Homo sapiens: one gene and its partner. The protein of the gene in region 2 interacts with the protein of the main gene of each other region in a pairwise test. Each region holds a gene or a part of one and is shown on either strand. Other genes may lie near its edges.

Region 1 (7,475 bases), on a different chromosome or scaffold from region 2:
GAAAATTGACCAAAGTCAATCAGTTAGTAAGTAGCAAAGCCAGGTTCAGAACCCAGGCAGTCTAGCTGCAGGGTCTTTCTTAACCACTTTATTATACTTTTACTGCTCTTTGGAACCTATAACGGGGCTTGAGGGAGGAAGGGAGGAAATGGCAGGAGAGATGGACAGACCTGAGCCAATAATTCATTCTAAGAGCAGTTTTTATTTAGAAATGTGCTTCCACAACTTGGTGGCCACCTGGGGGCAGGTAGCCCCGGCTTGCTTGTTCTCTCTTTCCTAGCCCAAGAATCGGGTCCTTGGGTCTAAAGCACAGGGCCAAGTTCTCAAGGATCAACATCCCAGACAGCTCCCATGGTCTGGGGCTTGGAGCTGGTATGAAGGGTGAACCAGGTTCCATCCTGGACTGTTTATGGTTGGAGGGCCTGGGCCCCTGGCACCAGGACCTCAGCTCCCTCTCCTAGTAAGAGCTGGGATCACCCACAGGCCAGCTGTGGCCAGGTCCTGGTGGATATGACATTGGGAAGAACAAGGGGCTAAGAGAGGCTAATTTTCTGGTGCTGGATCCAGTTTATCTTCCTGAGGGGTGGAAGCCGGGGCAGGAGCCTCATCCCCACCATTGAGGGACTTCTGCTGCTCATTGCTGTTGGGCGAGGGGGTCCTGTTGCCCTGGGATCCCCAGCGGGTCAGGCGCTTTAGGGAGGAGTCACGGTGGGCAAGCAGAGGGGGCTGGAAGCCTGAGAAGGAGCTGCTGGTGACCGGACGCTTATCTGGCAGAGAGAAGGCAGGCAAGTAAGGAGAAAGGCATGCAAAGGTGAGAGGCGAGGGGCCTTGCCTCAGCCCTCAGAGGAGAGGGGAGCCTCCTGACTGCCAGTCCTGCTTTTGCTGGCCCTGGGAGATCTGGAGGTCTCCCAGGGAGACCTTTCTCCCTCCTTTCTCCCTCCCAGCTCCAGGGAAAGCTCCAGAGTCTATTCCTTCTCACCTCCAGGCTCAATTGGATGCATCAGCCGGTTCATCTGGACATTCCAGTGTTTCACGTTGGTGCTGGCCTGGCGCAGTTTTCTCTGGGCAGCCTGTGGGGACAGGGCCAGTGGGGAGTGATCAGAACCATCATCCATGGCATGGAGTCTTGATCTTTTCAGGTTCGCAGGCTGCTTAAAATCTGACCAAGACTACTGATCATCTCCCCAGAGAAAAACCATATATGCTCATAGAGTTATTAATACATACATGAATAGAGTTTGCCTCCAATTTCATGGGACTCATGGACTTCCAAAAGATAAAATGTAACCATAATAATAGTTTCCGTTTATTGAGCAGCTAAGATGTGCTAAGCATATTTATTATCTTATTTAACTTCCAGAGCAGAAGTTAACAACAAAAAAGTTCAAAAGAGGTTAAGTGACTTGCCCAGGGATACACTTGAGCTCTAAGCCACTGCACTACACCACCTTTCCAGCACCTAATCCAAGAACCTCTGTTCAACATTTCACGGAGCCATTAGCAGTGGTTGTGAGGTGGGGGGGATCATGGAGGAATTTTCCCTTTCTATGTTCCATATTTCTGTGTTTGAATTTATGGAGATTAAAGCTCCAAGGAGTAGAGCCAAAGTACAAGGATAGCAAGACAGGGGCTTGGAAGGGTAGAAGGAAAAATTTTTCCCCAGATTAATAATGATGTGAACAAAGATAGCAGCAAATGTTTCTTCAGCACTTACTACGTACTAAGTATCATGTATCATCTCATTTAATCTTCATAACAACGCTATTACCAGTTTCCCAGGTGAGAGACTAACTCCAAGAAGTTTGGGCATTTGTCCAAAGTCACACAGCCAGCAGCTGCTAGGGCCAGGGTTTGAGGGAAGGCAGCCTGGCTCCAGAGCCTGTGCCCTAATGAGCTCACCCTGCCAGCCTCCACCCCATCCCACCCCAGGCCTCACCTCCACATCCTCGTCAGCCCTCTGCCGGTTCTGCCGCACCTCCTCCAGCTGCTGCTGGGCCTGCTGCAGGGAGCGGCTCTGCTGTGCCATCTCCTGCTGCAGCTCTTCCTTCTCCTGCTGCGCCCGTTCGATGTAGCGCTCCTGCTCCTCCTTCAGCTGCATCAACTGCTTCAGCTTCTCTTCCTCCTCTTCCAGCAGTCTGCCGGGTGAGTGTGTACTGTGTAGCCTCTAGTGCCAAGGCACCTTGCAGGTGCACAGCAAGCAGGAAAACTGGGGTGTGTTCCAGGAGGGGTGGTGAGAGAACCAGAAGAGGTTCCTCAGGCCTACCTGGTCTGAGCGATTCGCACAGATTCTTCATCTCGCCGAGCTTTCACCTCTAGTTGCAGGGCCTCCTGCAACCGCTGCTGCATCTCCTCCAGCTCCTTGATGCGCTGCCGCTGCCGGGCAGCCTCCTCCTCCTTCAGCTCCATCTCAGCCTGCATGGAGGCCCGGGCCTGTGGAGGGGGGAGGTGGTGGACCAAGAGCCAGGTCAAAAGGGGCACGTGGGGGCGGAGGAGGAGGGGGTGGGCATGTTGCTAAGCTGCCTAGGGGTGAGGGTCTGGGGAACTCCTTCATGTTGGGGTTTCCTGATCTGACCCCTTTCTGAGAGCCTGACTGGAACAGATAATGGTCGGTGAACAGATGCCACGTGGGGGAAACGGGCTCAAGTTATTTCCTTCCTAGTACCAACCTTAATCATAATTATATAACATGTAATTAAACAACATTATATAATTAAATAAGATATAAAAATATGGTCATCTCCTTCCTAGCACTAACTTAATAATTATTATAATATATAATAATATGTTATAATCATGGCTGATGCTAGGAAGGATGTGACTATAACTACAATTATTACAACAAAAAGTTACTGGACACTACAAGTGTTTCCTCATTTAATCCTCACCGTACCTCTGTGAGCAAAGTTCTATTAGCATTAGCATTTTACTGATAAGGCTCAGTAAAATGAACTTGCCTGGGATCACGGGGCTCGTAAGAAGCAGAGCTAGGATTGAATCTACGTGTTTCTGACTCCAGATCCAGGTTTCTTAAATCCTAAATCTAATTGCCTCTGCACACCTAGTCCGCCTCCATACGCGTCCCGCTTGCCTCTCAAACTGGTTTCACTGTAAACTTAGTTCAAGTCTAGTCCAAACTTGGTCCAGTCTAATCCCCAATCACACGGTCTTCAACGGCTCCTTCTGCCCAAGCCCCAACCCACAGCCAAGGTCTCCGAACCAGGCCCCATCCATCCACGGGCTCGGACCTCGCCCCACACCCCTTTCCTAGCCCCAGGTTCTGTCCCTGGCGGAAGCCCCATCCCAAATCTCTTTTTCAAACCCGCGGACTCTGTCCCAACAATCCCTCATTTCAAGCTCCACCCCAGTGCACGCCCCTCAACCCAGGAGCTCCGCCCTCTGCCCAGGCCCCGCCCCCGGCGCTCCGCCCCTGGCCAGCCTCCCAGCCCACCGGTCCCGTCCCCGGCGCCGGGAGCTAACCCCACCTGCTCCGCCTCGCGCAGTTGGCCCTCGAGCGCCTGCTGCAGCTCGCGGTGCTGGCTGCGGCGCCGTTCCTCCTCCTCCTGCAGCAGCCGCTCGGCCTGCCGCTGCGCCTCCTGCAGCAGCTCCAGCTCCTGCAGCTTCCGCTCCTTCTCCTCCTGCAGCTGCTGCAGCCGCAGCAGCTCCTCTTCCTTGGCCGCCCGGCGCCGCTCCCGCTGCTCCCGCTGCTCGCGCCGTTTCTGCTTCAGGTCCTTGTGTAGGGACGTCTTCCCCTCGGCCTGCAGCCGGATCGCCATCTGGATGGCTGCCGAAGAGCGGGAGCGGGTCAGTAGGATCCTCGCACACGGCCCGAAAGGGGCCTTAGGAGTTTCCCGAGTCCACTCTCCAACCTCCCGCTGGACAAAGTATTATCACCCCCTTTTCACAGATGAGGCGCCTAAGGACCACCCAGACCCAAGCCACCTAGCGAGCACTCACCAGCTGTCCACTCCTGGCGCTGGCGCGTGTCTGAGGCGCTCATCTCATACGTGCGGTTGGCTGTCTTCACACAGAACATGCAGCGCTTTCCGTCGCGGTCTGGCAGCACCTGGCACAGGGTAGGTGGCCGCAGCCAGGCTGGCCTCACTGGGTCAGGGCCCCACCTGCCCCAAGGGTGCTCCAGCTCAAGCCCCTAGCCCTCCTGGCTATCTTCCCTGGGGACCCCACTCTGCCAGGAGCCTGCATGGCTTGCATCATAAGTTATGGGGGACTTAAGTCCCCACAACTCTGTAGCCTTTGCTCTTTGAAGGCTAGGTGGGTGCGTTTCCATCTTGCTATTATTCCACGGGGCCCAGTACATAATCGCCACTCAGTGTTTATGCAGATCACGCTTGAACACTGCCAGTAACAGGGTCCTCACTATCCATGACAACTCACTTCCACATAGCCCTGCTTGTTAAGAGTTCATTCATTCATTCCGCAGATGTTTTTGGAGTGCCTACTGAGTGCCACTCACTGCTCCAGGGGTTGGGATACTAAGGTGTGCCTAACAGACCAAATCTCTGCCTCCATTAAGTTTACATTCTGTGGAAAATAATAGCTACCACATTCTAGAGTCTGTACTAGTATTTTATATGCATCATTATCTTCACTCCACCTATACAGCTTTGCCAGGCAGGCATTATTAGCTCCACTTTACAGAGAAAGAAACTGAGGCACTAAGAGCTCCAGGATTGTCCACCTCACACTGTTAGTCTGTTAGTGATGAGGCTTGGACTTCTGCGTAGATCCGTGCTCCTTTCCACAGTAACACCTTATGTGACAAAATTAGACAGATCCTAGGATGGCTATGATAATTTTTTAAAAGGAAAAACAACTGTTGGTAAGGAAATGGAGAAACTGAGATCCTCACACACTGTTAGGGATATTATCCAGCCTTAAAAAGGAATGAAATTCTGATATATTTGACAACATAGATGAAGCCTGAAAACATTTCTAAGTAAAAGAAACCAGACACAAAGGGACAAATATTTTATGATTCTATTTATGTAAGATACCTAGAAAAGGCAAATTCATGGAGACAGAAAGCAGAATAGAGGATACTAGGAGCTGGGGTCAGGGAGTATGAGGAGTTATTGCTTGGTAGGTACAGAGTTTCTGTTTGGTGTGATGAAAAAGTTTTGGAAATAGATAGTGGTGATGGTTGTACAATATTGTGAGTATAGATCTTTCACCATGATCAGATGGGATTCATCCCAGGGATGCAAGGATGGTTCAACATGCACAAATCAATATGCATGACACATCATAGTAACAGAACCAAGAGCAAAAACCATATATGATCATTTCAATAGACCCTGAAAAAGCTTTCTAAAAAAATTCAACATCGTGTTATAAAAGCCCTAAAATATTGGGTATAGAGGCAACATACCTTAAAATAATAAACGCTATCTATGACAAACTCACAGCTAACATTGTAATAAATGGAGAAAAATTGAAAGCCTTTCCTCTAAGATCTGGAACAAGACAAGGATGCCCACTTTTACCACTTTTATTCCATGTAGTATTGGGAGTTCTGGCCAGAGCAATTAGGCAAGAGAAGGAAATGAAGGGCATCCAAACTGGAAATGAAGAAGTCAGATTAGCCTTGTTTGCAGATGGCATGGTCTTCTACTTAGAAAAATCTAAAGACTCCATGGGGCGTGGTGGCTTACACTTGTAATCCTAACACTTTGGGAAGCTGAGGTGGTTGGATTGCTTGAGGCCAGGAGTTCGACACCAGCCTGGGCAATACAGTGAGATCCTGTCTCTCTCTTAAAAAAAAAAAAAAGGCCGGGCACAGTGGCTTATACCTGTAATCCCAGCACTTTGGGAGGCCGAGGTGGGCAGATCATCTGAGGTCAGGAGTTTGAGACCAGCCTGGCCAACACGGTGAAATGCTGTCTCTACTAAAAATACAAAAAAAAAAAAAATTAGCCAGGTGTGGTGGCAGGTGCCTGTAATCCCAGCTAACTTGGGAGGCTGAGGCAGGAGAATCACTTGAACTCGGGAGGCGGAGGTTGCAGTGAGCTGAGATCGTGCCATTGCACTCCAGCCTGGGCGATAAAAGCAAGACTCCTCCTCCTCCTCAAAAAAAAAAAAAAAAAAAAAAGGGACTCCAACAAAAAACCGTTAGAGTTGATGAATGAATTCAGTAAAGTTGCAGGATAATTCAACATACAAAACCCAGTAGCATTTGTATACGCTAACAGCAAACAATCTGAAAAAGAAGTTGAGTGCAATCCCATTTCCAACAGCTACAAAGAATGTAAAATACCTAAGAATCGATGTAACCAAAGTGAAAGATCTATACAAGAAAAACTATAAAACTGATGAAATAAATTGAAGAGGATGCAAAAAAATGGAGAGATATCCCATGCTATGTATTGGAAAAATTAATATTGTTAAAATAACAATATTACCCAAAGCAATTTATAGATTTGGTGCAATCTCTGTCAAAATAGCAAAGGCATTCTTCATAGATATAGAAAAAAAATCCTAAAATTTATACGGAACTACAAAAGACCTCAAATAGCCAAAGTAAGCCTGAGTAAAAAGAACGAAGCTGGAGGCATCACATTTCCTGACTTCAAAATACACTACGAACTGGCCACGGTGGTACACACCTATAGCCCCAGCTATTCAGGAGGCTGAAGCAGGAGGATCCCATGAGCCCAAGGAGACTGAGGCTGCAGTGACCTATGATCATACCACTGCACTCCAGCCTGGACACCAGAGAAAAATCCTGTCTCTAAAATAAAACAAAAAAACAAAATGTAGTACAAAGCTATAGTAACCAAATCAGCATAGTACTGGCATAAAAAGAGACACAAAGACCAATGGAACAGAATAGATAACCTAGATATAAATCCATGCATTTACAGAGAACTCATTTTTGACAAAGGCTCCAGGAACACACAATGGGGAAAGAACAGTCCTTTCAATAAATGGTTCTGGGAAAACTAAATAACCACATGCAGATGAATGAAACTAGACCCCTATCTCTCACCATATAAAAAAATCAAATAAAAATGGATTAAACATTTAAATGTAAGACCTGAAACTATGAAACTACTAGAAGAAAACATTGGAGAAATATTCCAGGACATTGGTCTGGGCAAAGAGATTTTTTGTGGAAGACCTCAAAAGCATAGGCAACCAAACCAAAAATAGAAAAATGGGATTATGTCAAGCTAAAAAGCTTCAGGACAGCCATGGAAACAATCAACAAAGTGAAGAGACAACCCACAGAATAGGAGAAAATATTTGCAAAGTATCAATCTGACGAGGGATTAATAACCAGAATATATAAGGAGCTCAAACAACTCTGTAACAAAAAACCAAATAATCCAGTTTAAAAATGGGCAAAAGATCTGAATAGATATTTCTCAAAAGAAGACATACAAATGGTCAACAGAGATATGAAAAAATGCTCAATGTCACTAATCATCAGAGAAAAGCAAATCAAAATTAAATGAGAT
Region 2 (7,974 bases):
TTGCTATTTTCAAAACATTTTTATTCTCATGGTCCCCCCTACAAGGCAAAAATCATGACGCCCGTTTTACAGGAGAGGACAGAGAGGTGAAATGGCATGCCCAAGGTCCCCCAGCTGTCAACAAAGACACCTCAACAGGAGGCCAGGGCTCTGAGAGCCTGGTGCCCGTCTGCTCATACCTGCCTTCCCTCTGCCAGTGAGCCCCAGTCCATTATCTTGCTCCAGCGTCATCCCCAAGGTCAACTCCTTACTCCCAGCTGGGTTCCTCAAGGGCACCTCAAACTCAACATGTTGAAACTGAGCTTCTCTCCTCCTCCCCTCCTGGTGGCTCTAATATACAAAGTCGCTACGTCTTGGAACTCTCAGAGATGCCTTTGACAAATTTTTGCCATCCCTTCTCTAGCCACTCAGTTCCCCATCCTGCCAACCCCCTTCTCCCTCCTCAGTGGGCTTCTGCCCCACCAGCTGCTACCTGGACTGCTGCAGGGGGTCTTTGAAACACTCTCTCCCTGTTCCCACCCAGCATGCACAGTGGCTTCACCCTCTGCCTGAGACAATGATTGTCCTGATCCCTCTAACCCAAAGCCCCACACTGATTTCCCATCAGGATGAGGCCTGAAGGCCTCAGCCAGGCTCTTCCGGTCTCTTCCAGGGGTTCCCAGGCTCTGTCCCCAACCTCACTCCAACACTGGCTCCAACCCACGTCTCCACATCACCCATGGGTGTCCCACAGTCTCCCCCAGCATGGCGTTCCCCACTATCGCCTCAGGACCTTTGTTCACATTGGTCTCTCCATTCGAAATCCATCCCTACTTGTCTCAGCTTACCCAACTGGTCCCTTCCTTCATGGCATGGTCCAAGTGCCAACACCTGACCCCTGGGGCCTGATCTACTTCTTCCTGCTACTGGAATTCCTCTAACAGCCAGCAGGAAGTGATGTAGGTGACCATCAGGACTAAGGAAAAGGACCCACCAAGAAAGAAGCCCAGCACTGCAGAAACACCCCCCAACCCCACCCCCATGGTTCCCAGGCCCGCTCTTCCTACCTCGGAGCCAGCAAGCACCCAGCTATTATCAGAGTCTGGGCAGGAGGCCATAGTTGCTGAGGTCCCTGAGGCTGCTGTGGCTGCCACCTGCAGAAGAAAGCTCTCTTAAGGATGGGAGCTCCCTTCAGGAGGGGCAGAATGCAGAAAGCAGCCTTGGCTGGGTTCCAAGGTTCAAGTGCTGGGCAGCAGCCTCCAGAACCAAGCCTGGTTCCAGTCCTTCTCTCCCTGACACCCCAGCTCTTCTAAGCAGTATTTGCCTTGCAAATCAGAATCTGCCAACACCCACAGAGAAGCCAGCCTCTTCCAGGGACCAACAGGGCCTTGGAAAACTGAACTGACCTTGAAAGGTCAAAGTAGCATAGGCTGGAAAGGCTCTGGGGAATTCCAGTCCAGCCCCCTGACATTTGAGTCAGGGAAGATGAAGCCCAGCAAGGTTGACAGACTCAACTTGCCAATAAGAAGACTTGTTAATAAGAAGAGCAGGGAAACAACACAGCCCTCCCTTCACAACACCAGGTACCTACACAATCACTACCTTCTCCCCCAGGACCTGGAAGGGAAGACTCAATGGCCTCCTTCAGCCCTAAGTGTCCCACCACTTGCCCAGCATAAGTCCTTGGTATGGTCTAGTTCAGTGGTTCTCAATCTTGGCTGCACATTGGAATCACCTAAGATTTTGATTCAATTGAGTTGGGGGGTAGGCCCGGCTGTGGGTCTTTTAAAAAACCACTCAAATGATTCTCATGCGCAGCCAGGGTTAAGAGCCACTGGCATAGCTTAGATCCACCTGGATGCACCTTTTATAAGTCTCCTCATCACTCTCAGTCTTCATCCTAAATTCTGTTTACCTTCTTAGTAATCGCCAGAGTTTGGTCTTAGGGAACTTGAAGGTGACTGGGAAAATGGATTTATGGCAACTATCATGTATATATACATCACTTTATAGCTTGCAAAAAATAGACAAAAATCAGGGCTATGGTCCTGCACCCGGTTAATCTGCTCTGACTTGACAGGGATAGGGGAGGGAATCACTCCAGTTTCCAAAGCCTGACTGACACAAAGCAGGGTAAGAAGAGAGGGATCCGCCCCTTCATCCAAGGCTAAAACAGTTCCCTCAGGCAGCTCCTGTTGGGACCAGGCATAAAGGTGGAAGGATAGATGAGCTGACCTCTCAAGAGTACTGGATTGTGATCCCTCAGAACAGGATAAATGACTGCTTCCCGAGCACTTTATAAGAAAACTCAGGAAAAGGGAAGTGAGGCTGGGAGAGTATGGCAGTTCTACCTTTGAAACCAACCACATTATCCCCTTCTGTTTGAGCTGTTTTCAAGTCCTGCGTGGTGCCCTAAGTAACCTCCTGTGGCTCCTGCCAGTCAAGATCCAAGTCCTGGATAGGTCTTTCCCAATGCCCATCCTCCCAGACACATGCACCCATTCCACACGGAGACAGGAGAATGGCTGCAATGACCTCCCTGTACCAAATCCAACAGGACACCCTGGCATGCATCTGTAAGTATCCATAGAGCCATGGCTGTTCAGCCTTCCGCTTGTGGCTCCACCCCCGCCCTTGTTATCATCTCCCCATCCCCAGTTGCTGACTGTTAACAGGTGGTGGCAGGAAGGAAGTGGCAGCAGCTTGGGCTGAAGTCCCTGTTTATCCCTAGCTGTGTGTGCAGCCTGCTCAGGTCCTCTAGAACCAGGCACCATGGCAACCACAGTGATGTCAGACCCACTGTCTCCATGGAAACCAGCAAAGGTATTTGGGTCAACAAAACAAATACTTATGAGACCCAAATAGGAGACACTCTGAAACTCCTATACTCTGGGTTCCAAACCCTGATACCTCTTTCTTGGTTAGGTTAACCCAGGGTTCAAAAAAACACCTCTTCTCCCAAGCCAGCATCTCACTGCCTTATTAGGAAGTTCCTTCTGCTGTCTAATCTCCACCCTTCCCTGCTGTGTTTCCAGATCTTTTTCTTTTCATCGACCTTCTGGAAGAAAACCCACCTCCACTCCCTCCCTCCACCCCCTTCTTTTCATTCAGGCAGGATTCAACAAACACCTCCTGTAAGGATTATGACAGAGACTTCTGCTATTTCTAAAAAACAGCTAAAGGGGGAGCTCTCCCACTCAGCATAAAGCTAGGAAGTCTCGCCTCTAGTTAATTTAAACTCCTCTAACAGTTGCTCCTCCAAACCGCTAAAGCAAAGGATCTAGGGCCACTTGCCTGGGGTACCCAGAGCAAGTTCCTGTTGTGTTAGCGTCGGCACCTGGCCTTCCTCCCCCAGCCCAGAAATGAAAAGCAGCTCATTCCTTCTAGATTAGTTCCGCCTTCCCTTTTCCTTATTCCACCCCCTTCAAAGCGAATCTGTGGACCCCTTCCCAGCTAAGGCATTACCTGAACCAGCTCTTGCTTCGGTCTTCAGCTTAACTTGTTGCAGGCTTCCCTTTGTTTGCAGCCCGAGAAGAAAATCATGTGACCAGAAACTGACCAATGAAAAGTCAACTTCCCCAAGGGGGCGGAAACTTTTGGCCAATAAGAGCAGGAATTGAGAGCCAGGGGAGGGGAAGGGAGGTCTAGCGACACGGCCCTAAACCTGGGCTTACCTCCTGGTGGGCGACCGGGGTCCCAGCTAACCGAATCCTGAGTTTCCTGCCCTTCTTTCCCAGTGTCTAAACAGTTTCTAGAGGGAACCCCCACAAACTGAGAGAAAAGCAGACGGTGCCGTCTTCTGAGATGACGAAGACAAGGGGCCAGGTTGGCCCCAGGATAGACAGAGACAGCTGTGAGATGGGGGAAGGGAGAGGGACAGGTCGCAAATCCAGGGTGTGGAAATAGCCCTCCTGCCATTCTCCCCAATCTGCTCCAAAACAGACTGCTTAAAAGATGCCATTGCTACTTTAAAAAACGGTTGGGGGACGGGAACGATCTGAAAAACATCCCAAAATGAAATTTGCTAGGACAGAAGCAGCCCCTCCCCTCACCCTTAGAGCGACACTTGCTCCCTAACCCAAACAACTGGGAGGTGGGTGGGGTGCTAAACCCAGAAGAGCTCAAGCACTTGTCTTCCAGAGGCTGTGGTGCCAAATCCGCCTGGCTCCAGGCCTGGCCCAGGAATATGCTCAAAAAGGAAACTCAGTTTCTCACAGTGGAGACACAGGGGGATGGGCGGGGAAACACAGGCCTCCCTTGGCTCAGCAGCTTATACCAGGGTCAGCTCAGGGGCCAAATCTGCCATTCCCACTCCCAGGGACCCTGGGGAGCATACATATCCTCAACCCCTAAGCACCCTACCCAGCAGTGACAGCGGCTCATTCCAGCCTTTTCACACAGCAACAGCAAGGAGTCCTTGTCTGGGATTTTAAAATCATTTTATTAATCCAACAGTACAAAAGACCCCCACCACCACCGCATTCTGCCATCACTTTGTTCCAAAAAGTAGTGGAGTGAGAGAGCGAGAGGGAGCAGATCCAGCAAAAACACTCCCCCAGGGGCCATTTTACAAAATGCGGAGCAGGGGAAGACAACACAAAAACAGCAACAGATAAATGGGGCAAACAGAACAACAAACACAAGAGTTGAGCAGCGGGGTGGGGGTGGGGGGTTGCCATCTACGCCGTTTTAGTGTGAGGGACACTGGGAACGATGCCCAGAGGCTGCTCTCCTCCCAGCCTCAAAGGTTGTCAGCTCCACCAGAGCAGGGTCTTCTCTCCTCATGCCAGGAACTGAGAGAAGTGGGGGTAGGGGACCACTAGGTCTTTGCCACTGTATCTTGAGCTGGGGGACTCCTAACTTCTCCGAGGGCCACACCCCATGCCTGCCTTCCCCACCCCATGGAGGAATGTGTGCATGAACAGAAAAGGAGAACGAGCAGCGCTAAGGTCCTCATCAGGCCCCAGGCCCATCTCTGGCAGGCAGTGCTTAAAAAATAAAAAAAGACAAATAAAGCCCAGTGCAGGCCTTTGGCTGAGAGGAATGAGAATTGCTAATTAATCACCAGGCCCAAGAGGATATGAAAGAATAGCAAAGAGAAGCAACAAACTCCAGGCTCTTCTACCTTTGAGTACCATGGCAATGAGGATCCCGCCGCATCCCCTACCCACAGGCTGTGACAGGGCCTCACTTGGATCCTTTTATCATGGAGGAAATGAGGTATAGGGCTCTGCGCCTTTTCAAGCTTTCCTTCAATCAAGCCAGGAAGGCAGGGGAATAAGGGCGCCGAAAGTTGAAGAACACACGGAGTATAATGTGCAACAGATGGGCTGGGGGAGGAGGGTACCACCAAAGTCCAGACTTTCAGGACAGCCCAAACTTCAAATATTCTGGTCTGTCAGATAACATATCCCAATTTTTGGCAAAAATATGGTCATTAGGAGAAAAGCACGAGAGAGGCTGAGAAAGGACCAGTGACTTTGGTATGAAGAAGATACGTCCTGACAGCATCTCTCACCTACTGTCTTGAAGCCCCAAATCACCAAGAAACTGCCATAACCAGGAACTCTCCTGCTTCCTCAGGCTATTTGGTTCTCTGAGGGGGAAGGAGTTGGGTAAGTCTTGGAGGAAGCAAAGGAGTGGGTAGAAAAAGGGGAAAATCCCCATTTATTCCCTAAAGCTGTCTCCCAGAGCCCATAAAAGGGCTATTGCAGGGATGGCAAGACCCCAATTCCTCTGGCCAGAAACCTTTAACACTTGACTCCAAAAACTAAGGCTGGAGCTGTGGGGTTCAGTAGGGGTGTTAGGCACAGGTGTTAGGGGCATCCATCATCAGCAGAGGGAACACCCCTGCCCTCCGGATCTTCCTCCAGCCCCTTTTCTCTTGCAGCCACACTCCTGGGCCTCCAGAAATAGCCACAAAATGGCTCTGCTCAGCAGGGCTTTGGTTTCCTGGATCTCTGTAGATCTCAACATGTAAGTTTCCCAAAACAGTGAGCAATCCAGGCTCTTCTGCCTGCCCACCTCAATTCCTTTTCTGCTCCCAGGAGCCACTGTTTCTGCCCCATGGGGATGGAAAGCCAGTGGAAACAAGGACCAAGAGCCAAACATCAAAAAAATCACCCTGGAAGAGCAGGGAGAGACATGTGCACTTCCCTGGGCCACTTCACCAGCGTCACCCATCGTTAGCAGCCACCAGCTGCCCCATGCCCTCACGGATGTAGACAGACTGGATCTCCTTGGTCTTGAGGCAGAGATCGCAGGCCCAGACGGCAGAAGCTTCAGTGGTCAGCAGCCCATAGGCGCTCTCAGTCATGCCTGTGCACTCACGGTGGAACCATTTCTGGCAGGAGGCCTCACACAGAATGGCATCCTGGTCATCGTTCACCTCACTCCGACAGGCACCACATGGGTACACCAAGCCTGGGGGAGGCTGGGGCCCGGAGCCCCCACCTGCCTTGCCAGGGGGTGCCAAGCTGTTGGCATCTGGAGTGCCCCCACCCCGCCCACTGCTGTTCGGGGGGAAACTGGGCTGGTTCCCATTAACAGCAGCAGCCGGGGAGCCTGAGTGGGGCTCCTGGGGAAAAGCAGTAGAAGCAGGTGGATTCAAGGGCTTCCCCCCATCCTCACCACCAGGGCCAGGAAAGCCAGGGTCCGGACCAGGAAAGGGACTTGTGTTAGGCGGCAGGCTGGGGAGCCCCTGACCAGGTCTCTGGAGAGGAGAAGGGCCAAAAGGAGCCCCTGGCTGAGCAAATCGTTGGGACAGAGAAGGTGGGCCCAGCTCTGCTCTGGGAGGCTGTCCCATGGTGGGTGAGATCATGGGACCAAATCCCCCCACTGGGCCCGGCATCATCTGCCCACTGGGAGGACTAAAGTTTTGACCCAGAGGCTGGTTGAAGGGTTGGCTGGGAAAGTTCATGTTGCCTGGGGGTGGGTAGCCAGGACCCTGGGGGGGCATGTTGAAAGCAGGGCCCATAGGATTGGGAGGGAAGGGGGGTGGCTGTCGACGGAGTGGCTGGGGGCCCCCTCCACCTCCAGTGCTGTAGCCTGGGGGTACCTGGCCCGCCATGCCCCCCTGCACACGGAAGCCTCCGAAGGGCACAGGACTGCCAAGGAATGGAGGGGCTGCAACCCCCACTTTGGGGGCTCCGAAGTCATCTTCAAAAGGGTTGGATGCAACCAGGTGATCCACCATGGGAGTTGGGGGTGGTGCAAACTCCGTCAGATGTGAGTATGCAGGGCCCTAGTGAGAAACAGTTGAGGGAAAGAGGGTCATGGAGGGAAACACAGAGCTAAACCAAGAGAGCACTACCAACACAATACACATTTTGGAGGCTGATACTGTGGGCAGCTCAGGTCTAAAATCAATATGGACCACAGGCCAGGTGCGGTGGCTCACGCCTGTAATCCCAGCACTTTGGGAGGCCAAGGCGGGCAGATCACGAGGTCAGGAGATCGAGATCATCCTGGCTAACACGGTGAAACCCCGTCTCTACTAAAAATACAAAAAAATTAGCCGGGCGTGGTGGTGGGCGCCTGTAGTCCCAGCTACTCGGGAGGCTGAAGCAGGAGAATGGCGTGAACCCAGGAGGCGGAGCTTGCAGTGAGCCAAGACCATACCACTGCACTCCAGCCTGGGCAACAGAGCAAGACTCCGTCTCAAAAAAAAAAAAAAAAAAATGGACCACAGGCCAGGCACAGTGGGTCACACCTGTAATGCTAACATTTTGGGAAGCCGAGGCAGGAGGATCCCTTGAGCCCATGAGTTTGAGTAGTAACACAGCAAGTCTCTGTTACTACAAAAAAAAAAAAAGAAAAGAAAAGAAAAGAAAAAAGAAAAAAAAAAAGACAAGAAAAAGAGGGTGGAGAGTGGAACCAACATAGTGCAGTAACTATGTTTTAAAAACAGGCAGAACTAGGATGGAATCCCAGCTCTGACCCTGAAAAACAACCTCAAGACTGTGGAGCATGTATTTAACATTTTTAACCCCCAGA

Evidence for each region. The genes of interacting proteins can lie anywhere in the genome.
Region 1: the proteins of PBXIP1 (region 2) and DEF6 interact in binary tests that used the Homo sapiens proteins (3 or more experiments, as listed by UniProt).

The regions. Positions count from the first base shown.
Region 1 is NC_000006.12:35,314,479-35,321,953, reverse strand, and holds the end of DEF6 (differentially expressed in FDCP 6 homolog), read right to left. Parts: intron 4,064-7,475; coding exon 3,955-4,063; intron 3,782-3,954; coding exon 3,483-3,781; intron 2,431-3,482; coding exon 2,264-2,430; intron 2,136-2,263; coding exon 1,937-2,135; intron 1,071-1,936; coding exon 980-1,070; intron 768-979; coding exon 544-767; 3' UTR 183-543; downstream 1-182.
Region 2 is NC_000001.11:154,952,625-154,960,598, forward strand, and holds the start of PBXIP1 (pre-B-cell leukemia transcription factor-interacting protein 1), read right to left. Parts: upstream 3,476-7,974; 5' UTR 3,445-3,475; intron 1,134-3,444; 5' UTR 1,098-1,133; coding exon 1,047-1,097; intron 1-1,046. Other genes in the region: PYGO2 (pygopus homolog 2), read right to left, coding at 6,155-7,222. UniProt on the Homo sapiens protein: Regulator of pre-B-cell leukemia transcription factors (BPXs) function. Inhibits the binding of PBX1-HOX complex to DNA and blocks the transcriptional activity of E2A-PBX1.